Linked DNA regions of Homo sapiens. The protein of the gene in region 1 interacts with the protein of each later gene in a pairwise test. Each region holds a gene or a part of one and is shown in the gene's direction. Other genes may lie near its edges. The genes, in order: TOR1A, CLEC2B, IQSEC1, EVL, IQUB, MGARP and SEPTIN2.

What was found.
Region 2: the proteins of TOR1A (region 1) and CLEC2B interact in binary tests that used the Homo sapiens proteins (3 or more experiments, as listed by UniProt).
Region 3: the proteins of TOR1A (region 1) and IQSEC1 interact in binary tests that used the Homo sapiens proteins (3 or more experiments, as listed by UniProt).
Region 4: the proteins of TOR1A (region 1) and EVL interact in binary tests that used the Homo sapiens proteins (3 or more experiments, as listed by UniProt).
Region 5: the proteins of TOR1A (region 1) and IQUB interact in binary tests that used the Homo sapiens proteins (3 or more experiments, as listed by UniProt).
Region 6: the proteins of TOR1A (region 1) and MGARP interact in binary tests that used the Homo sapiens proteins (3 or more experiments, as listed by UniProt).
Region 7: the proteins of TOR1A (region 1) and SEPTIN2 interact in binary tests that used the Homo sapiens proteins (3 or more experiments, as listed by UniProt).

What each region holds. Positions count from the first base shown.
Region 1 is NC_000009.12:129,817,065-129,821,533, reverse strand, and holds part of TOR1A (torsin-1A precursor), read left to right. Parts: intron 1-2,613; coding exon 2,614-2,789; intron 2,790-2,886; coding exon 2,887-3,014; intron 3,015-4,469. UniProt on the Homo sapiens protein: Protein with chaperone functions important for the control of protein folding, processing, stability and localization as well as for the reduction of misfolded protein aggregates.
Region 2 is NC_000012.12:9,862,828-9,867,296, reverse strand, and holds part of CLEC2B (C-type lectin domain family 2 member B), read left to right. Parts: intron 1-4,469. UniProt on the Homo sapiens protein: Membrane-bound protein expressed on myeloid cells which acts as a ligand to stimulate the activating receptor NKp80/KLRF1, expressed on the surface of natural killer (NK) cells.
Region 3 is NC_000003.12:12,899,168-12,903,079, reverse strand, and holds part of IQSEC1 (IQ motif and SEC7 domain-containing protein 1), read left to right. Parts: intron 1-257; coding exon 258-307; intron 308-1,557; coding exon 1,558-2,097; 3' UTR 2,098-3,645; coding exon of another isoform or gene 3,646-3,690; 3' UTR 3,691-3,912. UniProt on the Homo sapiens protein: Guanine nucleotide exchange factor for ARF1 and ARF6. Guanine nucleotide exchange factor activity is enhanced by lipid binding. Accelerates GTP binding by ARFs of all three classes.
Region 4 is NC_000014.9:100,130,890-100,135,358, forward strand, and holds part of EVL (ena/VASP-like protein), read left to right. Parts: exon of another isoform or gene 1-1,829; coding exon 1,830-1,890; intron 1,891-2,157; coding exon of another isoform or gene 2,158-2,270; intron 2,271-3,311; coding exon of another isoform or gene 3,312-3,399; exon of another isoform or gene 3,400-4,469. UniProt on the Homo sapiens protein: Ena/VASP proteins are actin-associated proteins involved in a range of processes dependent on cytoskeleton remodeling and cell polarity such as axon guidance and lamellipodial and filopodial dynamics in migrating cells.
Region 5 is NC_000007.14:123,457,805-123,461,595, reverse strand, and holds part of IQUB (IQ motif and ubiquitin-like domain-containing protein), read left to right. Parts: coding exon 1-239; intron 240-3,791. UniProt on the Homo sapiens protein: Adapter protein that anchors the radial spoke 1 (RS1) complex to the A microtubule of outer doublet microtubules in axonemes. The triple radial spokes (RS1, RS2 and RS3) are required to modulate beating of the sperm flagellum.
Region 6 is NC_000004.12:139,269,726-139,274,194, reverse strand, and holds part of MGARP (protein MGARP), read left to right. Parts: intron 1-4,469. UniProt on the Homo sapiens protein: Plays a role in the trafficking of mitochondria along microtubules. Regulates the kinesin-mediated axonal transport of mitochondria to nerve terminals along microtubules during hypoxia.
Region 7 is NC_000002.12:241,322,130-241,326,598, forward strand, and holds part of SEPTIN2 (septin-2), read left to right. Parts: intron 1-2,086; coding exon of another isoform or gene 2,087-2,103; coding exon 2,104-2,112; intron 2,113-3,863; coding exon 3,864-3,984; intron 3,985-4,469.

The sequences.
Region 1 (4,469 bases):
CACTCTCCCAGCTCCGTAGTCTTAGGAAAGTTGCCTGACCTGAGACTCAGATTCTGACTTACAAAGTGTTGCTTGTAACAATCCAGGGAGCTCTGTCTGTCAAGTGCATAACATGTACCTGGTGCATGTTACAAATAAATGTTAACTGTTGCCTTTTAGATCCTTGTAGCAGACCTGCAAGATGGGCAAAACAGTCAATTATTTATTTATTTATTTTTGAGACTGAGTTTCATTCTTGTCACCCAGGCTGGAGTGCAGTAGCACCATCTGGATCTTGATCTCGGCTCACCGCAAACTCTGCCTCCCGGATTCAAGTGATTCTGCTGCCTCAGCCTCCCAAGTAGCTGGTATTACAGGCACCTGCCACCACACCCAGCTAATTTTTGTATTTTTAATAGAGACAGGGTTTCACCTTGTTGGCCAGGCTGGTCTCAAACTCCTGACCTCAAGGTCATCCAGCTGTCTCTACTTCCCAAAGTGCTGAAATTACAGGTATGAGCCACCATGCCTGGCCTCAATCAGTTATTTATCCCTGACTGTATCTATGGAAAAATGTGAACACATTTTTCCCTTCTGTCTGGGTGAGCGTGTGGGTCACCCACTGTCCAGCGGTTCTGTACTAAAATGCGAATGTTCCACGGGTGTGGTGGCTCATGCCTATAATTCTAGCACTACGGGAAGCCAAAACCGGCTGATCCCTTGAGCTCAAGAGTTCCAGACCAGCCTGGGGAACATGGTGAAACCCCATCTCTACTAAAAAAATACAAAAAAATTAGTCAGGCATGGTGGCATGCACCTGTAGTCCCAGCTACTTAGGGGGCTGAGGCAGAAGGATGGCTTGAACCTGGGAGGTCGAGGCTGCAGTGAGCAGACAGCCACTGCAGTCCAGCCTGGGTGACGGAGTGAGACCCTGTCCCAAACAAACAAGAACCATTCTAGACGAATCAGGATAAGTTGATCATCTTAGAATTGAGGCTTCACTAACAATAACTGTGACTTTGGGCAAAGTTACTTCACTTGTCTGTGCCTCAGTTTTCTCATTTGTAAAAGAAGGAGCACAATGGTAACTACCGTGATGGGTTTTGGGAGGTCACAGTAAAATGTTCTATGAACAGACCAGGTGTGGTGGCTCGCGCCTGTAATCCCAGCACTTTGGGAGGCCGAAGCGGGTGGATCACAAGGTCAAGAGTTCAAGACCAGCCTGGCCAAGATGGTGAAACCCCATCTCTACTAAAAATACAAAAATTAGCTGGGCGTGGTGGCAGGTGCCTGTAGTCTCAGCTACTCAGGGGGCTGAGGCAAGGGAATCGCTTGAATCTGGGAGGCAGAGGTTGCAGTGAGCTGAGATCATGTCATTGCACTCCAGTCTGGGTAACAGAGCGAGACTGTCAAAAAAAAAAAGTTATATGAACAGTGCTTAGAATATTGTTGTTCCCATAGTGAACACTCAGTGCATGTTCCCTGTTATTGCATATAAGTTTGGTCACCAGAGTGAGAAACCTTGGCTGCTGGAGCCTAACAGGTCTGAGTGAATCCTTGTTTATTTTATTTATTTATTTTATTTTATTTTATTTATTTATTATTATTATTATTTTTTTTTTTTGAGACGGAGTCTTGCTCTGTCTCCCAGGCTGGAGTGCTGGAGTGCAGTGGGGTGATCTTAGCTCACTGCAACCTCCACCTCCCAGGTTCCAGCGATTCTCAAGCCTCAGCCTCCCAAGTACCTGGGATTACAGGCGCCTGCCACTATGCCTGGCTAATTTTTGTATTTTTTTTTTTAATGGAGTCTTGCTCTGTCGCCACGCTGGAGTGCAATGGCTTGATCTTGGCTCACCGCAACCTCCGCCTCCCAGGTTCATGCAATTCTACCTCAGCCTCCTGAGTAGCTGGGACTATAAGCACCTGCCACCATACCCAGCTAATTTTTTTGTATTTTTTTTAGTAGAGACCAGGTTTCACCATGTTGGCCAGGCTGGTCTTGAACTCCTGACCTCAGGTGATCCACCCACTTTGGCCTCCCAAAGTGCTGGGATTACAGGCATGAACCACCATGCCTGGCCCTAATTTTTGTATTTTAATAGAGATGGGGTTTCACCATGTTGGCCAGGCTGGTCTCAAACCCCTGACCTCAACTTATCCGTCTGCCTCAGCCTCCCAAAGTGCTGGGATTACAGGTGTGAGCCACCATGCCCGACCCCACCCCCTTTTTAAATAAAAATCAGTATCCTCATGACATCCCACATTGCCCCTTTGATGACAAAAGAGCAGCATCTCTGACAGCATCCGTGTGGCATCTCGCAGTGCGGGAACCGTAACCAAAGTATCGGGCTTTGGAGTGAGACAGGACTGGGTTCAGGTCCCAGCTCTGCCACATATAGTCTTGGGCAAGTGGAGTAAGCGCTCTCTGTGCCTCAGTTCCCTCATCTGTAAAATGAGAACGATAGTGCCCACTCCATGGGGTTGGTAGGAACAAAGAAGATTTTGGGCATGTAAAGTTCTTAGTGCCGAGTGCACAGTGGTCTGTAAGTGAAGCTGCGGTTCTTAGTGGTAGAAGGAGCTGATTGATGGCCCTGGCTGAGAACTTTGTGTTCGCTTTTTCCCCTTTTAATTCAGGATCAGTTACAGTTGTGGATTCGAGGCAACGTGAGTGCCTGTGCGAGGTCCATCTTCATATTTGATGAAATGGATAAGATGCATGCAGGCCTCATAGATGCCATCAAGCCTTTCCTCGACTATTATGACCTGGTGGATGGGGTCTCCTACCAGAAAGCCATGTTCATATTTCTCAGGTAAGGTCAGGGCTAGGACATGATGGATGGGCCCCGAGCCCAAGCCTCTGAGCTCCAGGAGAAAACCCTGTCCTTACCCACTGGGATTGTTTTGCAGCAATGCTGGAGCAGAAAGGATCACAGATGTGGCTTTGGATTTCTGGAGGAGTGGAAAGCAGAGGGAAGACATCAAGCTCAAAGACATTGAACACGCGTTGTCTGTGTCGGTTTTCAATAACAAGAACAGTGAGTAGGGCCATCCACCGCCAGTCCCATCTGGTTCCTAATCCTGCACCCTAAGTGTTAAAAGCATCAGGGTCACTGTCAGCATCACCTGGGAGCTGGGTAGAAAGAAATGCAGATTCTCAGTCCCCTTCCGAGTCATGAGGGGAATCTTTGCTGATGAACTCCAGGTAACTTTTATGAACACTAATGTTTGACAAGTGCTGTTTTATTTTTATTTTTCAGATAGTTTTACTCTGTCACCTAGGCTGGAGTGCAGTGGCGTAACCTTGCCTCACTGCAACCTCTGCCTCCCGGGCTCAAGCGATTCTTGTGCCTCAGCCTCCTGAGTAGCTGGGATTACAGGTGCACACCATGCCCAGCTAATATTTGTATTTTTAGTAGAGATGGGGTTTTGTCATGTTGGCCAGGCTGGTCTTGAACTCTTACCTCAGGTGATCCGCCCACCTCGGCCTCCCAAAGTGCTGGGATTACAGGCGTGAGCCACTGTGCTCAGCTTATTTTTTGAGACAGAGTCTCACTCTGTCACCCAGGCTGGAGTCCAGTGGTGTGATCTCAGCTCACTGGAGTCTTGACTTCCTAGGCTCAAGTGATCCTCCAGCCTCAGCTTCCCATGTAGGTGGAACCACAGGCTTGCGCCACCATGCCTGGCTAATTTTTTTTTTTTTTTTTTTTTTTTTTTTTGGTAGAGACTGGGTCTTCCTATGTTTCCCAGGCTGGTCTTGACTTCCTGGACTTAAGTCATCCTCCCGCCTCAGCCTCCCAAAGTGCTGGAATTATAGGCATGAGCTACATACCTGGCCTGCTGTTTTTTTTTTTTTTTTGAGATGGAGTCTCGCTCTGTTGCCCAGGCTGGAGTGCAGTGGCGCGATCTCGGCTCACTGCAAGCTCTGCCTCCCAGGTTCACACCATTCTCCTGCCTCAGCCTGCCGAGTAGCTGGGACTACAGGCACCTGCCACCACACTCGGCAAATTTTTTGTATTTTTAGTAGAAACGGGGTTTCACCATGTTAGCCAGGATGGTCTTATCTCCTGACCTCGTGATCCGCCTGCCTCGGCCTCCCAAAGTGCTGGGATTACAGGCGTGAGCCACCACGCCTGGCCAGTTCCCCCATTTTCTTCAGCTACATGATTTTCTTTGTAGAAGAAAGAGCCAGTGGTTGAGCAAGGAAGGATGCCGTGGGCAGCTCAGGGGGAGAGATGACCTGTTAGTTCCTCCCTTTCTCTGCATTGCCCAAGAGCAACAGCCAAATAGCGGTTCGGCCCTTATTTTGTACTGGGCACCGTGTGAAACAGCCTGCCTGCGGATTTCACTCAGTCTTCACCATACCTCGCAGGGTAGAGACTGAGACTCAGAGATGTGGCAGCTTGCCCAGGGCCATGCAGCCTGTTCGGTATCTCTGATTCTAAAACCTGAGCTTTTAAGTTTTAGCTCACTACTTCTCCAAATGTCATGAG
Region 2 (4,469 bases), on another chromosome or scaffold:
CCCACTGAATGGACAGGACAGTTTACTTACTTTCTGTCATTTGGTGGTATTGAGAGTGAGAGATTTCTTCCAAGGTTATATGAAGTTTCCCAGGTTGTATAAGACACCAAAGTGTTATAATGGTCTCCATTCATCAGTTTCCACTGATTACACCTGAGAAGACCATGTTCCAATATAAATGACCTCTTCGGGTCTAGCTCTGCTATTTTGTGCTGAACTCATAACAAAAGCCACACTGTTTCTTTGCCACATTTAAAGTACGATCATCTTTTTTGAAGCTGGGGTCATCTGTACGTAAAATCTACCAACTCTGTATACACCACCAAGTCCTTATACTCTAATACCTTGCCAACTTTGCAATGGAAAGGGCTCCTATTTTCCGCTGTATCTGCAAATTGTCATTTCTCATATTGTCAGGATGTGCATTGCCCTTCTCTCTACCTGTTAGCTCGAAGTTATTTCCTCTTTTTAAAATCCCTTCACAATTTTCAGAAACATTACTTCAATAAGCTAGATTTTTTTTTAATTGAAAAGGCCATTGATTTAAGCAGCTTAGGGTTTTCTTTTCAACAGTCATTCTGGAAGAAAGAATATCAAAATGGTCTGACTACCTCCTTCAAATAACAGATATGAAATTGACTCAAAAAATACTTCCACTTGCTGCAAATGTAAATAATCTTTACACTCTTAACACACACAAAATAATTAAAATATTTAAAAACAGGACAACTATAACACAAGAAAAAAATAATAGCAAAAGTTACCTTTTATTTACTTCCTGTTGTAACTATACTTTCTAAAAACACAACACACATATGCTCTTTAAAAAAAAATAGAAGTGGTACTAGTTAATGGATGAAGAGTATAGGATCAAATGGGGGTAAGAAAATACAATTACATGCCACAAAGGTTTGATCAAGATTTTGAAATCATGATATCTCTAACATCTATATTTTTACATTATGCCAATTCATGGGGAGAAAAACGGAATGACATACTGACATATTTACTTGATTCATGGCATTGAAAACAGAGAAAAAACTTCCTGTCTTTTCGATACCTGAGGTTTAAAGAAAATTAATAAATAATTCATGATATTAATAAGGTTATATATGAAAGATAAGAAACCTCATCAGAAAGAGCTTGATTTTTTAACACTTCTTTTTTCTACTAATTTGGGGTTTGGTTTGTTCTTGCTCTTACAAATCCTTTAAGTTCATCATTAGGTTATTTATCTGAAGTCTTTTTACCTTTTTTTAAAGGCATTTATTACTATAAACTTCCTTCTTTGTACTGCTTTTCTGCATTCCACAGATTTTAGTTTATTGTGCTTCCATTTTCATTTGTTTCAAGAAATTTTTAAAATTTTCTTAATTTCAACATTGACTCTTTGGTCGTTAAGGAGCACATTATTTAATTTTCATGTTTGTGCAGTTTCTGAGGTTTCTCAAGTTATTGACTTCTAGTTTCATCCCATTGTGGTCAGAAAAGATACTTGATTAGATTTCTACTTTTTTTAATTTATTGAGACTTGTTTTTTGGCCTACAATGTGGTCTGTTCTGGAGAATGCTCCATGTACTGATAAAAATAATGAGTATTCTGCAGCAGTGCTTCTGTACGTGTCAGTTGGATATATTTGGTAAAGTGTGCAGTATAACTCCAATATTCCTTGTTGATTTCCTGTTTAGATTATCTGTCCATTACTCAGGGTGAGGAGTTAAAGTCCCCCAATATTATTGCATTGCAGTCTATCTCTCCCTTTAGATCAATGAATGTTTGCTTTATATACTTGGGAGATCTGGTGTTGGGTCCATAGATTTTTAGAACTGTCATATCCTCTTGCTGAATTGACCTCTTTAGCATTATATAGTAACCTTTGTCTCTTTTTAAAGTAGTCTTTTAAAGTTTTGTAATCTATTTTATCTGATATAAGTATAGCTGCTCCGGCTTTTTTGGTTTCTATTTGCATGGAATATCTTTGTTCATCCCCTTCACTTTCATTCTCTGTGTGTCTTTATAGGTGAAGCAGATTTCCTGTAGGCTGCATACAGTTAGGGTTTTCTCTTTACCAAGTCAGCCACTTTAACTTTATGCTTTTTTTTTTTTTTTTTTTTTGAGAGAGTCTTGCTTTATTGCCCAGGCTGGAGTGGAGTGGCATGATCTCAGATCACTGCAGCCTCCAACTCCTGGATTCAAGCGACTCTCCTGCCTCAGCCTCCTGAGTAGCCAGGATCACAGGCATACACCACCACACCAAGCTAAGTTTTGTATTTTTAGTAGAAATGTGGTTTCGTTATGTTGGACAGGCTAGTCTTGAGCTCCTGACCTCAAATGATCTGCCTGCCTTGGCCTCCCAAAATTCTGGGATTACAGGCGTGAGCCACTGCACCCGGCCTGCACTTTATGTCTTTTAATTGGAGAGTTGAGTTCATTTAAATTCCATGTTATTGTTAAGTAAGGATTTTCTGGGGCTGTTTTGTTGCTTGTTTTATGGTTGTTTTTAAATTTCTCTCTTTTTTCTTTTCTTACTGTCATTCTTTGGGGTTATATAATTTTCTCTGGTGGTATATATTAATTAGTTGCTTTTTATTTTTAATGACTCTACTATAGGTTTTGCATTGTGATTACTATGAGGCTTATAAAAAATCTTATAGATATAACAAGTTATTTTAAAGAGATAACAACTTATATCACAAAGAATAGCAACAAAGGAAAAAAACACTTTTACTCCACCCTCACACATTTTTAATTTAGTTTTCCCAATTCACATATTTTTATTGCTTACCTCTTAACTGGTTTCTGCAGTTATCATTGTTCTTGATAGATTTATCTTCCAGTCTTCATTACTAGGGATATGAGAAGATTGTGCACCACAATTACAGTATTAGAGTATTCTGGGTTTGTGCATACACTTAATTTTATCAGTGTATTTTAGATATTCAGCTGTTTTCTGTTCGTGTGTTTTTTTCTTTTTGGTTGAAGAACTCCCTTTAGCATTTCTTATAAGATATGTCTGGTGGTGGTGAATTCTCTCAGTTTTTGTTTGTCTGGGAAACATTGTCTCTTCTTCATATTTGAAGGTCAGCTTTGCAGGATATGGTATTCTTAGATGGCAGGGTTTTTTTTTTTTTTCAGCACTTAAAAAATGTCATCACTTTTCTCTTGGTCTGTATGGTTTCCACTGAGACGTCTATCATCAGATAAATTGGAGCTCCTTTAAATATTATTTGCTTCTCTTCTCTTGCTGATTTTAGGATCCTCTCTTTTTCCTTGACCTTTGAGAGTTTGATTATTCTATGCCTAGGGGTAGTCTTGTTGGGGTCGGAATCTGTTTGGTGTTCTCTGACCTTTATCTGCCTGAATCTTTATCTCTTTCTCAAGCTTTGTAATACTTTCTGTTATTATTTCTTTGAATAAGCTTTCTACCTCTTGCTCTGGTTTGACTCTCTCTTAAACACCAATAATTCTTAGATATGGTCTTTTGCAGTAATTTTCTACAAGATGTTGGCATTCTTCCTTCCTTTTTATTCTTTTTTTCTCCTTTCCTTGTGTATTTTCAAAAGCCCATCCTCATGCTCACCGATTATTTCTTCTTCTTGATCCATTCTCTTTTGAGAGCCGCTAATAAAATTTTCGGTTCAGCAAATGTATTTTTCAGTTCCAATATCACTTTTTGATTTTTAAAAATTATTTCAATCCCTTTGTTAAATTCCTCTGATATATTTCTGAATTGTTTTTTGTGTTATTTTAGAGACCAGTGAGTTTTCTTAAAACTACTATTTTGAATTCTTGGTACAAGTGCTCACATATTGCCATTTCATTAAGATCTGTCTCTGATTCCGACTTTGTCCATTTAGGGGTATCGCAGTTCCCTGTTTGCTGTTGTTTCTTATGGATATGCATCTATGTCTTTGTGTTGAAGGATTTTATATGGCTTGTTTTGGTTTACATTGAATATGTTTGTTTAAATATTCCTTGTAATTTACCTGTCGATTTTTTTGGGGGTGGGGGGCGGCAGCTAGGTTTCGGCCTCCTTGTTATGACTACATGGTGCCTTAACCCAGGTTTGCCTTGGTTCTAGTAAACAATTAGAGTGCCACTCATACCAAATGAGGGTGCTTCCAAAGGGGATATCCCAGTAGTGTGGGAAGACTGACGAGGTGTTCCAGCCCAGGGGACCTGTGCAACAAACCTCCTATACCATGATGCTGCTCGACAGCCACTCTAAGTTGACATCTCCTTTGGCCAAGTAACAGAGCACAGTTTCTGGTATTGGGGATGGTAGTCCTGCCTCCCCACTTTGTCTCTGCCTGTCCTCGTTCAGGCACCCCGATGCTTCCCAAGTGTTAAGGCAGGGGCAAGTTTCCTGCCAGGAAACTCAAGCTGGTGGGGAAGCTGGTTATCCATCTTGATCTCACTTTTTCCAGTATAGAAATGATGTTTCCATGCCCTTGGGTACCGGAAAGAT
Region 3 (3,912 bases), on another chromosome or scaffold:
GGGGCTGGTTTAAAAAAGAATTTTTTTTTTGCTTTTCGAAAACTTTATTTTTAAAATTCATTCTTGCACTGCTGCTGGCTTCCCCACTGAGCCCCTCCTCCGACCCCTCACACCTGGCTCCTGCGGGCAGGTGGGCCCGGCACCTGTGCCTGCTCCCAGCAGGGGTGCAGGCTCCGTGGCAGCAGCGTGGCACCAGGCAGGCAGCACCCCCAGCCTCATGTCCGCGTCTAACTTCTGGTATTGCATGTTCTGGGCAGGGAAGCGAGGGCGTCGCAGCAGTGCGGGATCGCTAGAGAGCAATGTGGAAGTAAGTAGGAAGCGCCTCTGTCCAGCTGGCTGTCCTGTGTCGCCTTCCCCAGTCCTCAGTTCATATCTGTTGTCCTGGTTTTTTTTTTTTTTTTTTTTTTTTGGTTTTTTTTTTGTTGTTTTTTTTTTTGGCTTTTCCTTCCCCTACTGCACAGAGATGCAGACACCCACTCCCTGCCCCTGCCTGCCTGGAACCCTGTGCATGTCAGCTTCTCCTCTGTGCCTAGAAATATCCATGCCTCTCACCGCTTGTTTTGGACTCAACAGTGGGGGTGGTTCTGGATTTTGTGTTTTGGTTTCTGCTTAACCCCATCACCTGTGGTCCCTGAGCATGGTTGACCATCCCCAGCTTCCGGCACCCCCGCCCGGGCCACCCGGCTCCCACTCACCCTCCACACTTGCTGTTGGATGTTTTTGCTGAACCCTTGACTTCCACGCCCGCCCATCCTCATCGCTTTCTTCTTGGAGTTTGATTGCTGTGTGTCTGCGGCAGGACACCATGGAATTGCTTAGCTTGTGGGAGGAGGAGTGTCTTGAGAGAAAGAGATTCAGTGTGGATTTCATGATATTTCACTCATCCTCCGGCCATCTCTGTATTACTGTTCACATCTCTACCTCAGCTTGCAGATCTTTTTCTGTTACCTTCTTTTTCCTTGTTTGGTTTGTAGTAGGCAGCTGTAGTGAAATGCCTAGGCAGCCCATTCTCCCAGAGGACAAGGTTTCTGAGCCCCACCTGTCCCTGTCACCACCTCCCCCGAGACCTCAGGACCCACATGGGCGGAGCACATGCCCTCAGCCCAGTTGAGCAGTCCCAGGAGAGCTGAGGGCCCTGTTTTCAGCAGGAGCAGGGCTCCTCCTCCAGGCACATCAGCCCCTCTGCACTCGCCACACACAGCGCACAGACACCCCAACCTAGGGGTTCCAATTTGAAATCTCAGGCTGCTGCCAGGGCCAAAGTGCTTGTCAGAATGAGACCAGAAGTCCTACTTCTGCCGTGGTGGTCAGAGAGATGGGCCCCTCCCCTGCCCTCACTCCCCACTTTGGTCAAGGCCAGTAACCCCCAGCTGCCCTGCACTGTAGTGAGAGGAGGCGGGGCCCAGTCCAGCCTCACTGAGCCCCACCCTCTGGCCAGTGAGTTGAACTAAAGCTTAGCAGTCAGTGGGTGAATTTTTACATTTGAAAAAAAAAAATCATTCTGACCTAAGTGCTTGAAGATCTTTTAATTTTGATTTCTATGAATTTCCTTTTTAGGGGTCCATCATTAGCAGTCCTCACATGCGCCGGAGAGCTACATCAACACGAGAGTGTCCATCTCGCCCACACCAGACTATGCCCAACTCATCTTCCCTCCTGGGCTCCTTATTCGGGAGCAAGAGAGGGAAGCCCCCTCCCCAGGCCCACCTGCCCTCAGCCCCAGCCCTGCCACCCCCCCACCCACCGGTGGTCCTGCCTCACTTGCAGCACTCTGTGGCTGGCCACCACCTGGGGCCCCCAGAGGGGCTGCCGCAGGCCGCCATGCACGGGCATCACACCCAGTACTGCCACATGCAGAACCCTCCCCCGTACCACCATCACCACCACCACCACCCACCCCAGCACATCCAGCACGCACACCAGTACCACCACGGCCCCCATGGGGGCCACCCAGCCTACGGGGCCCATGCCCACGGCCACCCGCCGCTGCCCTCGGCCCACGTGGGGCACACAGTGCACCACCATGGGCAGCCCCCTGCCCCGCCGCCCCCCACCAGCAGCAAGGCCAAACCCAGCGGCATCAGCACAATTGTGTAGACAGCCTGGGTAGGGGTCCCAGGCTCCCTGAAACACCTGCACACCACACAGGGCACGCCCGGGGGTCGCCAGCCGCACACCAAACCCGGGGCACTTCTGTTGCCATCTCTCCCCTCTGCCCCTCACGGCCCAACCGGAGCCCCAGGAGCCCACAGGGCTGGTGTTGTGTGGAACAAAGGCCCAGATTTCATTTCTTGTTGGCACCCTGGGCTCTGCTCACCTCAGTCTGAGGGATGGGTGGGCCTCAGACACCATCAGCCTTGAAACGGTGAGCCAGCCAAGTAGTGTTGAACTGCCTCCCCCACTCCAGCTCTCAGCTCCCTGTGCCCTAATGTACATGCATATGAAAACCCAACCTAGAAAACGAAGAAATGAGATACAAAAACAGACAAAACAAACCCCAAAACTTGCTGCATTATTGCTCTTTTATTGACAATGGGCAAAAAAATAAGTAGACCTGATATGGTTGATGAAAATACGTAAGTAAACTTTATATAAATATATAAATATATAAATATATATATATATATACTGTATAGGTAGTACTTGTGTGTGAAAGGCAGGCGTTTCAGTCCACATTAGCAATACCCACCTTACAAGGAGCTCCACTTACCTAATAGGAAGACAGTACCTTAGCTGGGTGTGTGAGACAATAGACCAAACCCTAAATGCTAGGAACAAATTCAGATACTTCATATTTTCATACAAAGAAGTCCCTCTAGGACTGGCTAAAATCTTTACACAATCATTACTAACTGTGCCAAGTAACATAGCATCTAACTGTTTAAAAAGTCCAGTATTGCTTTGTATAAATCCTTATTTTATTAACAGAATACTATCATAAATAGTATTATAATGCTGTTATTTCAGGTAAGCAAATAGCTAAACTGCAGTACACTCTACAGTAGCAACTCAGGACAGCTGGTTACAAGCTGGTTGTCTTAGGACATTGGTTACACGGATTCTTAGACACTTTAATGGCTGCGATAACTGTGACTCTCCATGATCCATGTTTCTTTTATGCGCATATGATTTGACGCACACTCATTCAGAGTCCTCCGAGAGGGGCACCCATACACGGCAGAAGTGTTCATCTCCAACATGAAAGTGACCAGCTCTCATCCTCGTCTCCCCAACACCATAACGTCCTCATCCCGCCTCCAACCCACACCAGGCCGAAGCCCTCAGAGAGTGTTTTCATCAGGAACCACTCTCGAACCTGAAGGTTGACTTTAGCGTTTAGCAACCCAGGGCGGTGTGTGTGTTTCCCGTTTTGTTTTCTGAGTGGTAGCAGTGATCACCGTAATTCCATGTAGCCATGTGCTAGCAGAACCCCTGTGTCCTCACCGTGGCCCGTGTGACCCCAGCCGACGAGTGCCCGGCGGAGCCCCCGCTGCCTTCCCATGGTCCAGTGAGCTGCCAGGGCATCACATGACTCTCAGCTGTGCTCTTGTCGCTTCTGTGTTGTGGTGACACCATGCGCTCCCCAGGGCCAGACCTGCACGCGGCAGGTCTGTGCCCGAGTCACCCACGGGCCATACTTTGTAGTTTCAGCCTTTCGAGCCACTGCAGCCGTCAGTGCTGTGCTCCTAAGCCATGGGACCCGAGGACTGCCCCCCGGCGCCTGCCCAGGCGGAGGCCCTTTCAGAAAGGGCGAAGCTCACGCCTGACTCTGCGGGCCGCGGGGCCGCGTTCCCAGTGGACAGCGTGGTGAGCCGTGGCCGGACGGCAGGAGGAGAGGGGAGCCCCCTCTGGCTGTGTGTCACCTTGGCTGGCTGGCTGGCCAGGGTTTTGCCGATTTCCCTCCTCACATCC
Region 4 (4,469 bases), on another chromosome or scaffold:
GCAGTTTCCTGTGAGAGTAAGTCCAGGTGTGTGGGGCTTACAGTGGCCACACAAAGGCGAATGGCTCCGTGGGTGAGAGAGCCGGGAGGGCTCGCAGAACGATGAGGACGTCCCGTGCTGTAAGAGGGACAGTGGGCAGAGTTAAGGTAAGGCTGGGAAGGCTGACGCCCCCTGTGCCTGGAGAGCTAGGTGTGGAGGAAATGGACCAAAAGTCAGGCTGGAAGAGGGAGCCTCCTGGTGCAGGGCATCGGGTTCCACCTCAGAGCACTCAGAGGCGAGGATGGGCCACAGAGAAATAGAAATAGTTTTGGAAAAGAAAATATGAATGCTTTCCCTAAGTCCTAGACCAAGCTGAGGGGAAGCACCTTTCTGTCTGAGAACAGGAAAAGGCCAGTATTGCCAGGAGCCAGTGAGATGCCAGATGCCGGTGGGAGAGTCAAGGCCCTCCCAAGAACAAACATGCTTTGCATAGCTCAGCAGGGATCAATCAGGTGCTCTCTGAAATCCACCTCAGTGATGGCTACTGGGTGGAGCCGACGATGAAAGTGCCCTTGCCAGGTTTCTTTTCATGTAGGTTGTCTCCCGCCTCTGAGGGCATGCAGTTGAGTCTCCCAACAGTGGAGGGCAGGAGGGAAATGAACGTGGACAGAAAGCTCCTGTTCAGCAGCACTTTCACAGACACTCATCCCGCCTACACTCCCCGTGAGCAGGTGGCTTGGTCAGCGTTCTGTTTCTAGGAGATGGGACACTGGCTGCTGGGGGGTAGCTGGTGAGGTGTAAGTGATCGTGGCTAGGCCAGTTAGGAGACTCTGACAGTCCAGGAAGAGATGATAGGGGCATGCAGGAAGGTGTTGAAGGTGAAGACAAAAAAGACAGGCAGGTACCCAGATTTAGAGAACTGACCAGGCTGACAGTTATAAGAAGCTGGTGTCAGGGATGATTCCCTGGTTTCTGGGCTGAGGGACGAGGTGGGCAGACCTGTCCTGAGATGGGAGCTAAAGAAGGGGGCCCCTGCTGTAGCTGAGGAGGCTGCCAGGTAGGCCCATCACAGACAGGTGACAGCCTGGCCACGGCCCATTATCACACCTCAGACCAGCTCCATGCTTGATGGGCAGCTCATCTCAAGTTGAAAAGCCACAGAAGCGTATCTCTGGGAAACACTGAGGGTCTGCCTGCCTCTGTAGACCTGGGAGGTCAGCAGATACCACTGAGGCCAAAAAATATGGGTGAGGTTTTAGAGTACATGAAACGGGGATTCATACTGGGGAGGTGCACGAACCGACTCAAGGGCGTCACGTGGACCTATTCCAGGGCTCCTCTTCTGAGCATTTCCAGGCTCTGAGTGGCATTCTAGATTGGGGAGGGCGTGGCTGGGTTAACTGAGTTCCAAGACACAAGGGCCTTAGAGTGACACAAGAAAGTGTCCAGTGTCCCGACCTGTGGGACAGACTGCAGCCCAGAGAGATGCCTCTCTGTCCCGTGTGGCCAGGCCTTCAGTGTCCTGGGGACAGAGCGTGCCCGCCTCCCCTCCACGCCTCAGATGCTACAGCTGCTGCCAGTAGAGCTAAACAGACATAGAGGCATCTCGCCCTCTCTGCCTAGACCAGTTTTGTGTCCCAGGCCATGACCACACGGAGGGCCTGGACATTTGCCTGGGCCTGGCTCCTCACCAGACGGGGCCTAGACAAGCCGCCTCCTTCACGCCATCGTTTTCCCACACAGGTTTATCTGAGGACCGGGGTGAGTCTGGCAGGGTGGAGGCAGAAGAGTTCTGGGACAGTGAGAGAACGTGAGGAGCTGATCTGTATCTTCCCCTTCTCTGTGCCTAGGAGAAAAGCAGCCTCCCAGTCAGACAAGCCAGCCGAGAAGAAGGAAGATGAAAGCCAAATGGTGAGCAAGCAGCCCGCCCCACCCTCAGGCTCCCCACTGAGATGAGCGCATCGCCAGGGAGGCTCTCTGGTCTCAGGCGAGGCCTTTGGGACATGCGTGGGATGGGCGCTTCATCAGGTGATTCACAGGAGGGGCGGAGGGTCTCTGCGGTGCTTGTCCCTGCGCCACCCTGGCCCCAGCAGCAGGCCTGCCCTCACTGAGCACCCCCTACCAGACACTGCTCCACCCTTGGAGCTGCAGCCTGAGGCGCTGGCCGCTGCACCGCAGGGCTACCTCGCCTTCCCAGGAGCCCCGGGGAGCACAGACCAGCCAGGGTCTCGGCGGGACTGGGACTCCAGGAGTACACTGCAGAGGGGCACGTCTGCCAGAAGCCCAGAGAGGTTTTTATTTTCAAATTATTTCTGTTTCTAAAGACTCCTCTTCCAGCAGGAGCTTCAGGTGAGCTGTGGCAAAGGAGCCCTGGACCCCTGGCTCTTGTCCTTACCAGGCAGCCCAGAGCCAGCCTGGCTGCCAGAGCTCCCAACATCTGCTTCCAGTTAGGGCGGCTAATTCTCTTTTCCTCCATGTTAAGCTTTTCCTATAAAAAGACTCCTACTGACAGGGCTAAGTTTAGCCTTAACTACAAATGCCTTGAAGGTTCCACCTCAGTGCAGAATCAGAGAGGAAATAAAACTGCCAGGGACCAGAGCAGGCTTCCTGCCCTGTCCTCCCATCAGTCAGGGTCATGCTGGTGTTACCCTGAGGCTATAGCCCTCCCAGCTGATCCACGCCTCTCAGCCCCGTCCTGGGCACATATGGGTCCCTTTGCCCCACCAGCCAACTCCCATTCAGCCTGCACTTCCCTGCATCACCCTTACACCTTAAAAAACAGCCTCCCGGCCGGCTCAACACTTCACACTTGTAGTCCCAGCACTTTGGGAGGCCGAGGCAGACGGATCACCTGAGGTCAGGAGTTTGAGACCAGCCTGGCCAACATAGTGAAACGTCATCTCTACTAAAAATACAAAATTAGCGGGGCATGGTGGCGCATGCCTGTAATCCCAGCTACTCGGGAGGCTGAGGCAGGAGAATTGCTTGAACCTGGGAGGCGGAGGTTGTAGTGAGCAGAGATCGCACCATTGCACTCCAGCCTGGGCAACAAGAACGAGACTCCGTCTCAAAAACAAAACAAACAACAACAACAAAAAAACAGCCTCCCGACCCCCAGGCCTCACAAAGCTCCTCACTACTTGATCCCAGCCCCGGTCTTCTCCCGAGGCCCTCTGCACAGGCACGACTGCTTGTGGAGACTCGTTGTCTCCTGCCAGATCTTAGGCCCTTGGAGGGCGAGGCCTGGGCTTCTCACACGTCCACCATTCCCATACCTTGCACATGCTGTGGAGTTTAGCCAACTGACTTGCCATGAATTTCTGAAATTGCAGGCCACGGGATAATCACAGACATCAAAATACTGTGGCCTCGCTCCAGCCACAGCCCTGGGGATCTGAAGACATCGCTGGCCTTTCTTAGTCAGGTGCCAGTATGTTGCAGTCCCAGCCCCTGAAAACTAAAACTCTCGCTCCTGGAGCTCTAAGAAGAATGGATTTCAAAGCCCAGGGGCTTCTGGAAGAGGAACATTCTTGAAACCTTCAACCCCAAGGATAGCACTCTCCTCCTCAGACCCCCATCTTTTCTGTCTTGTTTTTCACAGGCCCCTGGCTACAGCTGGTTCTTGTTTGCCATGGTCCCTTCTCATACCCAGGACTAGCGTCTAAAGAGAGCAGGGCCTTCAGAAGATCCACACACCACACAAGTGCAGTGGGAGGGAGAGAGGCTGATGGCCGGCACTCGTTTTCTTGTTCATGCTTCCTGGTATTTCCCCAATTCTCTGCAGTGAACATGCACTAAGTTTATCATTAACAGAGAAGAAAGAAGGCTTATTTGAAAGACGAAAAGAGCCCCAAATGTGGAGTCCGGTGACTTGGGCAGGCCCTCTGCCATGGCAGAGCTGGCCCTGGGCCAATGGAGTTACTGCTCCGAGGACCAGTTCCACCACCTGAAAACCTGCACCCAGGCATGGCCGCCTCACAGACTGTGCGACTGCCAGAGGTGGGGTGCAAGTCTCTGTGCCCAGGGCCTGGGAGTGCTGCGGCCACCTCTTTCCCAGCCTAGAGTCAAAGCATAACTTCCCTTTTAAGCAGGGAGGGTTTTAAAAAAATAACATACAAGAAAAGATGATAATTTTTTAGTGACTCTGATGTCACCCTGTATCGCTTTCATCGTGGCCCCCACATGTGTGTGTTGATTGACATAATCTGTTATTCAGCTGTCTTTAAAATGAGGAGGCCTGAGAACCTCATCCCAGCACCTGCAGGCTGGCACCTGCTTTTGCCTCTCGACCAGAGCCTCCCGGGACTTACTCGTTCACCACACAGATACGCAGGGCGTTCCTGATTCTCGTGTGGGGATGTAGTGAGCAGAGGAGACAAAGCAAAGACCTCTGCCCACGGTGACAAGGGAGAGGTTCTTTGCTTCAGATCAGAATGACACATCAGGTTGGGTGGCCGCCTGTCAACAGCTCAAATGCTGTGCATTCTGCT
Region 5 (3,791 bases), on another chromosome or scaffold:
ACCCATTGAAATTTTATAAGAAGATTTACTTTTGCCACAGTTGCCAGCTTTATTTGCCTTCTACAGAATTTTCTGTATCATCCACCTCACGCCGCATATACCGGTGTCGTAACTGCATTAACCTTCAGAATGAGGCTCAAAAACGAGAATCATTTTTGAAGTACAAATGTTTACTTCAACAGCTCTACTATACAGAAGCTGATTATGAAGATGATTCTAAAATTGCTTTCTTGATGCAGGTATGGTCAATAAGGGGTGCCAATTATAGCTGAAGCTTGTCAAGGAGGCTATCTTGCAATCTTATGTATGTTTGTGTGTGTGTGTGTGATTGTTTAATGACTCTCTATTCCACTAGACTGTAAGCTCTGTGAGGGCAGGAGTATGCTTTTTTTCCCTCCTGCTCACCATTATACCTCTATAACCTAATACAGTACCAAGTTTTTATTTAAGGCCCTCAATATTTGTTGAATGAATGAATGACTTTTACAGAAACTGATGTTACATATACACATACTAGTGTTTACGAATAACAGTAATAATTAGTGTAAACCAAATGTGACCATAATGGTAAATAACACCAAAAGTGAAAGCTAAGGCTTATAGAAAGTAAAAAAAAAAAAAAACCTTAGGGAAAGGCTTTGATACTTGTCTATGTAAAGTGTTGATATGATACCACACAACTGGAAAGTTTCTGGCCAGAGTTCTTTTGGATGAATCATTGCATTGGATCATTGACCCTACGTAATCTGCTTCTCGTAAGAACTTCTAGCTCTGTGAGAGGGTGGAGCCTGTGAGATCAGGAATTCTGACCTGAATTCCTAACTTAACCACTACTTCGGTCTCTTTGGTTATTCCATGTCTTCTATTGGGTTTAGGCCAGAGGATAGTCTGTGTCTCTACAAAATAAAAACAAATTCCTGACACTGTTTGGACTTAGGTAAGCAAGTGAGAAAACAGAAGGACTTACTTGTTGTTGATATGGCTACCCAACATTAGCCACTTATTAATAAAAGTATATTATAGAGCACAATTGACCTCATTAATGATATTTGTGTTCACAGACTGTCAAATAAGGGCAAATTTTCTGTAAATTAGTTACTAATTAAAATGAACTAAATTGTATTTAATACCAAATAGGAAAGTAGGCACTACTATGAATAGAAAACTTTATAGAGATTAAAAAAAAGATACCAAATGTGATGTGCTTTGTTAAAAAATTCTTCTAAATCCATAGCTTTCAAACTTTTAAATCTCAATCTATAGTAAAAATGTATTTTTATGACAACCTGATATAGGCATGCATGATAATTCTCAATACTCAGTACCTATATGGCTTTACACACTTTATTGAGTTAATCAGCACAAAAATCCTATCAAAATAGGCATTATTTCCATTCTGCAGGTGAGGAAAGGGAAGCACTGAGTGGTTAACTAACTTGTCCAAGTTTACGCTACTAAGTACCAGCACCAGGATTGAAAACTAGGCAGTCTGATTCCCAGCATCCGTACATGTAAACACATGCTGTTCTGCCTCAGAAATAAAAGTTTCCAAAATAGTGTTTATCTTTACCCCTATGGATGTACTCTGATATTTTCTATTCAATCTCAGTCTACTTATTCTGATTTCCATTTGGAAAACTTTGGTATCACCCAAGAGGTAGCAACCCACAGTTTGAAAAGCACAAATTAAAATGATTACATATTTTGTCCAATAGAATGAATATTTTGTTAATAAATTTGATGTTTATTTCAGCTTAAATTCTTATTTGCTACTTTTATTCAGGAATTATTGACATGACAGATGTATATTTCCTTGTAGAGAATCTTAGATGTACTAGGGCTTTAATGTAAGTCACCAAGAAGTGCTGGCTCAATATTCCATGTTGTATTAGTCAGATTTCTCCTGAGAAACAGAACCAATAGAAAATGTTATACATATATGTTATATATATATACATATAAGGAGATTTGTTACAAGGAATTTGCTCACATAATTGTGGAGGCTGGTAAGTCTAAAACCTAAACAGCTGATGGCCCAGTTCAAGTCTGATGACCAGCAGGCTGCTATAGAGCCAGGAGGAGCCAGTGTCTCAATTCAATGGCCATTAGGCAGAAACAGTCTTCCTTACTTGGGGACAGGGTGAACTTTTTGTTCTATTCAGGCCTTCAACTGATTGGATAAAGCCCACTCACATTATGGAAGACACTCTGCTTTACTCAGTCTACTGACTTACTTAAATGTTAATCTCATCCAAAACTACCCTCACATAAACACCAGAATACCGTTTGACCAAATATCTGGGTATCCGGTGGCATCATCAAGTTGATGTAAAATCAACCATTACACATATTGAATGAAAAAATTCTAGGGGAGCATTGTAACCTTTCAGATAAGGATAATCTCCATTAGATGTGATTTAATTTCAGTACCGTATCTATGTAGGGTTTTGGTCTATTACTTTTCCAATGTCTAGGATTAGCAGACAAATATGAGTGTCCAGTAGCTTCCCCCCCCTTGTAATTGGTGTAGTTTTGATTAATATTTATTTCAGTAATAGTATTTGAGGCATAATTTGAATGTTTGAACATTCTCATAAATAGTAAATCTTGTGGACAACAGCAAAGATTAGCATATGTTAAATGTGAACATGATGCCATGTAAAATGAAAAGGTGAAAGTTAATATATATAAAAAGTAAACATTCTGCTTAGACAAGAGATTTGAGTGTTGTACTAGTCACCTCGTTTATCTGTAATGCATACAAATACTGCCTAATATAATAGGCAATAGTATTGCTCTGTTACTGCAAAAATTTCAAGTACAATGACTACTTGAAAGGTAGAAAGCTCTTAGAGACTGTCAACCACACTTATGTGCACATTTGACATTTACATGCAAATAAACACGTTATTCTGTATGATACAATTTCAAAATTATTAGTACAGTTGAGCAACTAAATTAAAAACAAAAATGTAAACAAGATGCATTTTGAATGTAAGTAAAATATATAAAACATTGAATTTTAAAGGTCTATAAATTTATTTTTCATAGCAGCTGTGTACAGAGTATTGTCTTTTTTAGCATTAAGTAAAAGCTAGAATGCATTAGTTGAGCTTAATATATTGAATTACCAATTTATGAAATACTGTTGTAGCTGATGATGACAGGTTCTTTTTGTTTTTTACTTTGGCAGATTGTTTAGGTTTTGTGTACTCATTTTACAGAAAATATTTCTGCTCTCACACTTTTTCACAGAAGCTTTTTTAAAAAATATTCTTTTTACATGCTTATACTTTGTTGAGTTTGTCCGTCTCTGGCAATTCTAAATTTATAATGCAGACCCCATGATAAAAAGTCATTCCAAGAGTTTTAGCTGATAAGATTTACGTTTTTTAAAAAGTTTTAAACAGCTATTTCATTACCCCTCTTTTTGATTAAAACAACCAAGTCTTTTAATTAACACTAAGTGAATTACTTATCTTTATTAAATCTCAACTTCCTGTGTTTGCTTCAGCAGCCCATATACTGAAATTGGAACCATATAGAGAAGATTAGCATGGCCCTTGGACAAGGATGACATGCAAACTTGTGAAGTGTTCCATATTAAAAAAAAAAAATCTCAGCTTCCTCATTTGTAAAATGGCAGTAAAAGGTTTTAAAAGGTCCCTACAATGGCCCTGAAATTAAGATGGTACTTACTAATGAATTTTAAAGATCATTCAATACCATATGTTTATTATGGTAACATTATAGTATTATTAAGATTATATTCAGGTAAAATTAGCATACTG
Region 6 (4,469 bases), on another chromosome or scaffold:
TACAGAGTCGTTTCATCACCCTAAAAATCCCTCTACTCCACCTACTCATTTCTCCCTCTCTCCTCCCAATCTTTTTACTGTCTCCATAATTTTTGTTAGTTTTAAATTTTCACACAGTTTTATTATTTGAAAAATTCATATTTGTTCATAAGTTTCTAAAAAATGCAACATAGACATATATAAAGTGAAAAGCATATTTTCCTTCCCAGTCCCCATGTCCATTCCCTCCAGGTAAACCCTGTAAGACAAAGGTTTTAATAGTGAGATTTTGGGACTAAAATGACAGACATTTTTTAGTTAAGTAAGTTAAGACTTGAGTCATTCACCATTTTGTCATAAACTTTCTAAATCAAAATATAATCTTTATTAAGAATAAAAGTAGGCCAGTCATGGTGGCTCACGCCTGTAATCTCAGCACTTTGGGAGGTCAAGGTGGGCAGATCACCTGAGGTCAGGAGTTCAAGACCAGCCTGGCCAACATGGTGAAGCCTCATCTGTGCTAAAATACAAAAATGAGCCAGGCATGGTGGCAGGTGCCTGTAATCATAGCTACTCAGGAGGCTGAGGCAGGAGAATCACTTGAACCCAGGAGGTGGAGGTCGCAGTGAGCTGAGATTGTGCCACTGCACTCCAGGCTGGGTGAGAGAGCCAGACTCTGTCTCAAAAAAAAAAAAAAAAAAAAAAGAATAAAAGTAATGCGGTGGCTCATGCCTGTAATCCCAGCACTTTGGGAGGCTTGAGTCCGGGAGTTTGAGACCAGTCTGGGGAACACAGTGAGACCTCATTTCTACAATAAAAAATAAAAAAATTAGCCCAGCGTGGTGGTGTGTGCCTGTGGTCCTAGGTACTTGGGAGGCTTTGATGGGAGGATCGCTTGAGCCTGGGAAGTTAAGGCTGCAGTGAGCTGAGATTGCACCACTGCACTCAAGCCTGGTCAACAGAACAAGACCCTGTCTCAAAAAAAATAATAATAAATAAAAAAGAATAAAAGTAGAGCCTGTAGTGGTGGCTTACGCCTATAATCCCAGCACGTTGGAGGCCAAGGCAGGAGAATTGCTTGCAGGAGTTTGAGACCTGCCTGGCCAACATAGCGGGACCCCATCTCTACAAAAAATGTAAAGAATAAAAGTAGAATAAGCAGAAATTCTTTGTAAACTCTAAGAGTACACAGTCACTATATTTTGGTTTGGACCTACGGAAATATGAATAAAGCCGGGCCGGTGGCTCACACCTGTAAACCCAGTACTTTGGGAGGCCAAGGTGGGTGGATCACGAGTTCAGGAGTTCAAGACCAGCCTGGTCAAGAAATGGTGAAACCCCATTTCTACTAAAAATACAAAAATTAGCCGGGCGTGGTGGCGGGCACCTGTAATCCCAGCTACTCTGGAGGCTGAGGCAGAGAATTGCTTGAACCGGGGAGGCGGAGGTTGCAGTGAGCCAAGATTGCACCACTGCACTCAGCCTGGGTGACAGAGTGAGACTCCGTCTCAAAAAAAAAAAAAAAAAAAGAAATATGAATAAAGAGATGTTTAGTCATAACTAGAAGCAGTTTCATAGGACTATGTAAGATGGCCAAACCAAACCAAACCAAAATACATATTCTAATCCTCAGAATTTTTTTTTTTTTTTTTTTGGGAGGGGACAGAGTCTCGCTCTCGTCCAGGCTGGAGTGCAGTGATGCAATCTCGGCTCACTGCAAGCTCCACCTCCCGGGTTCACGCCATTCTCCTGCCTCAGCCTCCTGAGTAGCTGGGACTACAGGTGCCCACTACCACGCCCAGCTAATTTTTTTTTGTATTTTTAGTAGAGACGGGGTTTCACTGTGTTAGCCAGTATGGTCTTGATCTCCTGACCTCGTGATCTTCCTGCCTCGGCCTCCCAAAGTGCTGGGATTACAGGCATAAGCCACCAAGCCCGGCCTAGAAATTTTTTTAAGGCTAGTCATAATCTTCAGAATTTTGAGAGCCTCAAGGAGTCAGGAAACTGCAAACTTGTCACTTATATTGTTGTCCTCTACTAATCTGCCAGCTTTCACTTGTGCCCAGATTCCTTTGTTCTGTCATCTTTCTACTGTTTAATGTTGAATTCATGGCTCAAACCCACTCTAGTTGAGGTGTAGGCCACCAAAAAAAAAAAACAGAGATTGAGACTAGGCCATGTGATAGGCTGGGAAGCTAGAAGGATGAATTTCATTTGGACATCACTATACCCCTGATTATATTAATATGTACCAGTGCCAAAAACAAACTTTGCCAGACTGCTAACTCACTGGTTGCAAAAGGAATCTTAAACTAAAAGGTTATACATTTATAAACCAGCCATCCCTGAGAACCCTTTCTGGCCTTGTTCTCTCACAGTAGGGATGGAAGTTGTTCCCTTCCATTTCTAAGTTTATGTGATTTTAATCTCAAATGTTGGAAGCCTTAATTGCCAGGAATCTTAGGCTACTTTCAGGAGGAAATGCTGAATGTAAGGCACTCCAAAACCTGTATACTTGTTCTCCCCTTCCATTTCATGTCCTGTACTAAAATAATCTCTATATTAGATTTTTATGAATTGACCCCACAGATGCTTAGTAGCCAAAAGCAGTTTTCCATTTGCAATCAAAATCCTCGACTATTAGGGGTCATTGGAATCTGAAAGAGGCCCAGATCACTCCAGTTTTTTTGAGGGTCTGGGTATCTCTTGTCCCCCAGGCTGGAGTGCGATGGCGCAATCTCATCTCACTGCAACCTCCGCCTCCCGGGTTCAAGCGATTCTCCTGCCTCGGCCCCCTGAGCAGCTGGGATTACAGGCGCCTGCCACCACGCCTGGCTAATTTTTGTATTTTTAGTAGAGATGAGGTTTCACCATGTTGGCCAGGCTGGTCTCGAACTCCTGACCTCAGGTGATCCACCCGCCTCGGCCTCCCAAAGTGCTGAGATTACAGATGTGAGCCACCATGCCCGGCCTGGTCTGGTATATCTTAAAAAGTAGTACCAGACTGGCTTATAAAAATTGTAGTATATTTTAAATGCTTATACTTAATAAATACTTAATATCATTTGTAAATAACTGCCAAAGTCTAAATTTGAGACCCTCTCTTTTAATAGGCCTTTATTCTACTCTGTGCTCGACTGTGCTGGATTTGGAAAACCTAGATTCTTTGGGCCACACATTAGGGTGAATTATTCTAGTATTGTATCTCTTCAATTCTCCCTAAAGTTAGTCTTTTTTCTTGCCTTGTGTTTTAGCCCCTTGAGCAATGAGACTAATGTCCCTTGGAATGTTGTTCCTGGAATGATCCTTTCAGGGATGTGAACTTGTGTACTGGTTCGGTTTGTGTACTGAGAACTGGGGATACTGACTTATCATATTGGTCCTACAAGGTGTCAGGAACACACACCCTACTCGGAAAATATTCCTTGCTTTTATACAGAAAATGTTGATTATCATTCCCGTTGATCATATTTGCTCTGTATGTTTCAAAGCCAAATGATTCAAGTCTGAGTTCACTAAACCCCGGGAAGTTTGCTATAAAAGGGTCACTTTACATCACTTCTACCCGACATTATAGATTTTCTTTTCTTTTTTTTTTTTTTTTTTTCAGACGCGGTCTCGCTCTGTCGCCCAGGCTGGAGTGCAGTGGTACGATCTCTGCTCACTGCAAGCTCCACCTCCTGGGTTCACGCCATTCTCCTGCCTCAGCCTCCCGAGTAGTTGGGACTACAGGCGCCCGCCACCACTCCTGGCTAATTTTTTGTACTTTTTGTAGAGATGGGGTTTCACCATGTTAGCCAGGATGGTCTCCATCTCCTGACCTCATGATCCGCCTGCCTCGGCCTCCCAAAGTGCTGCGATTACAGGCTTGACCCAGATTTTCTTTTCTTTTCTTTCTTTCTTTTTTTTTTTTTTTTGAGACGGAGTTTCCCTCCTTTCCCAGGCTGGAATGCAATGGTGCGATCTCGGCTCACTGCAACCTCTGCCTACAGGGTTCAAGTGATTCTCCTGCCTCAGCCTCCCGAGTAGCTGGGATTACAGGCATGCGCCACCACGCCCGGCTAATTTTGTATTTTTAGTAGAGACCAGATTTCTCATGTTGGTCAGGCTGGTCTCAAACTCCCGACCTCAGGTGATCCGCTGGCCTCAGCCTCCCAAAGTGCTGGGATTACAGGTGTGGACCATTGCACCCGGCCCCGACATTACAGACATTCTATTTTCACAGCATAATTTTTACACTGTAAAATTGTTTGTAATTAAGTAGTACAATTTTTAAATAAGGTACTTGGTTTCTGATGGTTAAAAATTTAGAAGACACTATATATAAATAAATTTTAGAAATCTATCATCTTACCATTAAAAGTTAAACCACTACCAACATTTTCTTAAAAGCTAAATTAATACAAACAATAGTAACTGAATAATGAGATTTTCATTTTTTATATCATTTTCTAATATGAATACAGGCCAAAGAAGACTACTTAAATATA
Region 7 (4,469 bases), on another chromosome or scaffold:
AAGTTAAGATTTGGGGGAGGGGAATCGAGAGGCAAAGTGAGAGAAGCTTTTTAATAAGTTTCTAAGCTCCAGAGGGAACCAAATTTGACAGCAGTCATCTTTCTTGGGGTTGTTACTGAAGGTTAGCCAACAGACTCCATGCTTTCCAAAGCTTCAGGGTTTCTAAAATTTGTTTAAAAATTCCACATATCTCTGGCTGGGCACAGTGGCTCACACCTGTAATCCCAGCACCTTGGGAGGCTGAGGCGGGCGGGTCATGAGGTCAGGAGATCGAGACCATCCTGGCTAACACAGTGAAACCCCATCTCTACTAAAAATTAAAAAAAAATTAGCCGGGCATGGTGGCGGGCGCCTGTAGTCCCAGCTACTCGGGAGGCTGAGGCAGGAGAAGGGCGTGAACCCAGGAGGTGGAGGTTGCAGTGAGCTGAGATCACCCACTGTACTTCAGCCCGGGAGACAATGCGAGACTCCGTCTCAAAAAAAAAAAAAGAAAAGAGAAAAAAAAATTCCACATATCTTTAAAAATATTGTCACATTTTTCAGACACTCAGATGCCTTCAGTACTATTTCCTTTCCTCATAAATGTAGTTCACATTGCTCTCTGTACCCCAGTGTCAAAATCTAGTTCTCAGGTAGCTCTAGGAAACTCCAGTGGGTGGCAAACATGTTCAAGTTACAGTGCTCTATGTAATGAAGTCCCTTACTCCTTGAAAGGTTTCAAAGAGAGAGGGGAAATGACATAATTCCAGAGGTCAGGGAAGTATGTATCCGTGTGTATCCCATTTGTGTCCCTAGTGTCTAACATATAGTCAGTACTGAAAAAAAATTTGAATATTATTGAAAATATGGAATATGTGCGTACATATATATATACAGTTGCTTTTATCAACTTAAAAATTTTTTTAATTTTTTAATTTTTTGTAGAGATAGGGTTTTGCTATGTTGCCCAGATTGGTGTTGAATTTTTGGCTTCAAGCAGTCCTGCCTCTGCTTCCCAAACTGCTGGGATTACAGGCGTCAGCCACTGCACCCAGCCACCATCTAATTTTTTTTTTTTTTTTAATGGAGTCTCACTCTGTTGCCCAGGTTGGAGTGCAGTGGCATGATCTCGGCTCACTGCAACCTCCGCCTCCCAGGTTCAAGCGATTCTCCTGTCTCAGCCTTCTGAGTAGCTGGGATCACAGGCACGCACCACCACGCCTGGCTGAATCAGTATTTTTAGTAGAGACGGGGTTTCACCATGTTGGCCAGGCTGGTCTTGAACTCCTGACCTCAAGCGCCACCATGCCTGGCTGAATCAGTATTTTTAGTAGAGATGGGGTTTCACCATGTTGGCCAGGCTGGTCTTGAACTCCTGACCTCAAGTGGTCTGCCTACCTCGGCCTCCCAAAGTGCTGGAATTACAGGCGTGAGCATCACGTCTGGCCTAATTTTTTTAATCGAATTTATTTTTGTAATGATAGATGCTTGTCTTATTCCTAGGGAAATATTTGAAGTAATTGAGATGCTGTCACCTAAAATAATCAAAAGGCTCCTGATTCAGTTAAAAGAATTCATTTAAGTACAGAGTGTAAGCGAGCTACACCAAAGAATGGTGATTAGCGCTCCCAGGGTGGGGAAAAATGAGGATTGTTTATATAGGCAAAATGGAGGTGCCAAACAGAATTATAACATTTTCGGAACTAAGGCTCATTTAAAGATACAAATTTGATTGGCTACTATTGATTACACTTGAAGGGATTTGTTTAACTTCCTTTTGTAAAGAAGTAACAGTCATAAGGATCTCTCATCTCCCAGTCATTTAGTCTAGTTTTGAATAAAGAATAGGGGGTCTGGTTAATATATACATCTAAACACAAAAGTCAGAAAGAATAAAAGTAGTGATGTTACACGAGCCAGCTGTCAGTGCTTAACTTTTCCCTTTGGCCTAATGCATTTGGAAGGTCCTGAAATTGTATTTTCTTTTTACATTGCCTATGTATGTGTAAGTCTTCTTCAGGTCAGTTCACGCTGTTAAATATACGTGCGTATACATACATACTATGTATGTGCGTTTATGTGTGTCTGTGTGTTTTTTTTTTAACAGACGAAGCTTCACAAAAGATGTCTAAGGTAAGATCATACTTCATGTATCTACAGCATAAGGAGAAATTGCTTTATGTTTTCAGACTGTTGACAGTCGGGACTTATATGATTCATTATTTTTAATACAACTGATACATTTGATTCATTAACACAAAGAGTTCTAATTTAGTTGTCTTTTTTTTTTTTTTTTTGAGACGGGAGTCTTGTTCTGTCACCAGGCTGGAGTGCAGTGGCATGATCTCAGCTCACTGCAACTTCTGCCTCCCACGTTCAAGCGATTCCCCTGGCTCAGCCTCCGGAGTAGCTGGGACTGCAGACACGTGCCACCACGCTGGCTAATTTTTTGGATTTTAGTAAATTCGGGGTTTCACCGTGTTGGCCAGGATGGCCTTGATCTGTTGACCTCGTGATCCACCCGCTTTGGCCCCCCGAAGTGTTGGGATTACAGGTGTGAGCCACCGTGCCTGGCCTAATTGTCATCTTAAAAGCTTGGAGCTTTCTCTTTTTTCAGGCTTCTACTTTCTTTTCTCTACACACATCAGTAACAGTCCTTTTGGCCCCCTTAGTTCATTCCCAGCAGACCAGATAATTTAGAATTCTGATAATTTATTATGATGAAATTGATGGGGCTCTTAGACTTGATAAATTGGTTTAAATCAGCCTTTGCAAGTTAGTTCAGAGATAAATTAGTGCTAAAGAACATATTCTGAGAAAAGCAGAACTTGTGGTTAACATTGCAAGATTATTATTTCTGTTTTTTTTTTATCTTTGAATCCTGTGGGTGTTCATTACTGTCCAATGCAAAATCATCATACCAGTTTTTGCATTTTATACCAGTGTTAGCATGGAACACAGATAAGCAAAAAAAAAAGTCATTATTTCACCACTCAGGAATAACCACTGTTAATATGTTACATATATTCTTTTTCACCTGTGTGTGCATTTGACTATACATTTACAAAATGTAATCCTAAAGGAAATACTATTTTGTATCTTGCCTTTTTCAATTAATAAATTGATTTTTAAAATTTCTTCTCATTTTCAGTATGCCACTGTCTAGATTCTGGTTACTTCTGCTATTCTTGCCTTCTCATATCTCTGTCCTCTCTCTCATCAGATACCCTTCTGTCAAGGAATATTGATGCTTCAGTGTAGTCATCTATGATCTTCTCATTCTGTCTTTTCTTTCTTGGTCTTTGACACTAGATACTCAACATCCCACCCCTAATTTGCCTGCCTCACCCTTGATGAAACTCTGTTCTATAGAGCTAGAAGCACAGCAAGAGAGATGCTTTTTTCCTCGATACTTTTCAGAAATGCATTGCACCTAATACCTGGGAGAAGCTATTCTTTAGCCAAGTTTGTTGAATGAAACCATTCATTCAAAGTACTGTCAGCTGTAGCAGTACTTTGTAAGCTTGACTGATTTTCCTGGAACTCCATAGTCTCTCAAGTCGAAATTTGAAATTGCATTAAGATGTATTAAGCATGTATCTTCTATGTATTGTTAAATTCCTAAACAGAATACTGATTAACAAAATGTTAATTTTCAGTCGCATACAACTAAGGAGTTATACTAGATAAGTTTTTCTTTTTTTAATGCTCCTAGTTGAATACTACTGGTTTTCTGATAGAAGTATGACCTTCTGGAAGTGTTTATACTTTTTAAAAAATTTGTGAAAACTGATAACCTATGTTTGTTTCATGTCTAACTGATTATATCTTAAAAGCAACTACTAAGGTGTTTATTAGTTTGTTTGTTTTTTAATCTTATTTAGCAACAGCCAACTCAGTTTATAAATCCAGAAACACCTGGCTATGTTGGATTTGCAAACCTCCCCAATCAAGTTCACCGAAAATCAGTGAAAAAAGGTTTTGAGTTCACACTGATGGTGGTCGGTAAGAAATTAATCTATAGTCTCCAACTTACTAAATAAATATCTCCCCTTTCCAATCTCTGGAGTATGATAACGTGACCTATAAAGAAAGAGGAAAATTTGGCAGAGTCAAATAACTTGAGAATTTGAACAAATATATGTGTATTCATTAGAAAATTTTTCTCAGGAGCAAAATTATTTTTCTGTCACTTTCTTATTTATATGTAGTGAAAGTTTACTCATTGTGTCAGCTAGGCTCCAAAATGGCCCCCAGTGATTCTTATCTCCTGGTATTCACAACTTTCTTGTCCCTTCCTGCATTGAATAGGGTTTTACCTGTGTAGCCAGTAGGACATTGTGGAGATGAAAGTGTTGTCATTTTCTAAGACTAGGTCATAAAAGGCATTATGGCCCCCCACCTTGCCTCTTCTCAAATTACTCACTCTGGAGGAAGCCAGCCCTTCCTGCATTGAATAGGGTTTTACCTGTGTAGCCAGTAGGACATTG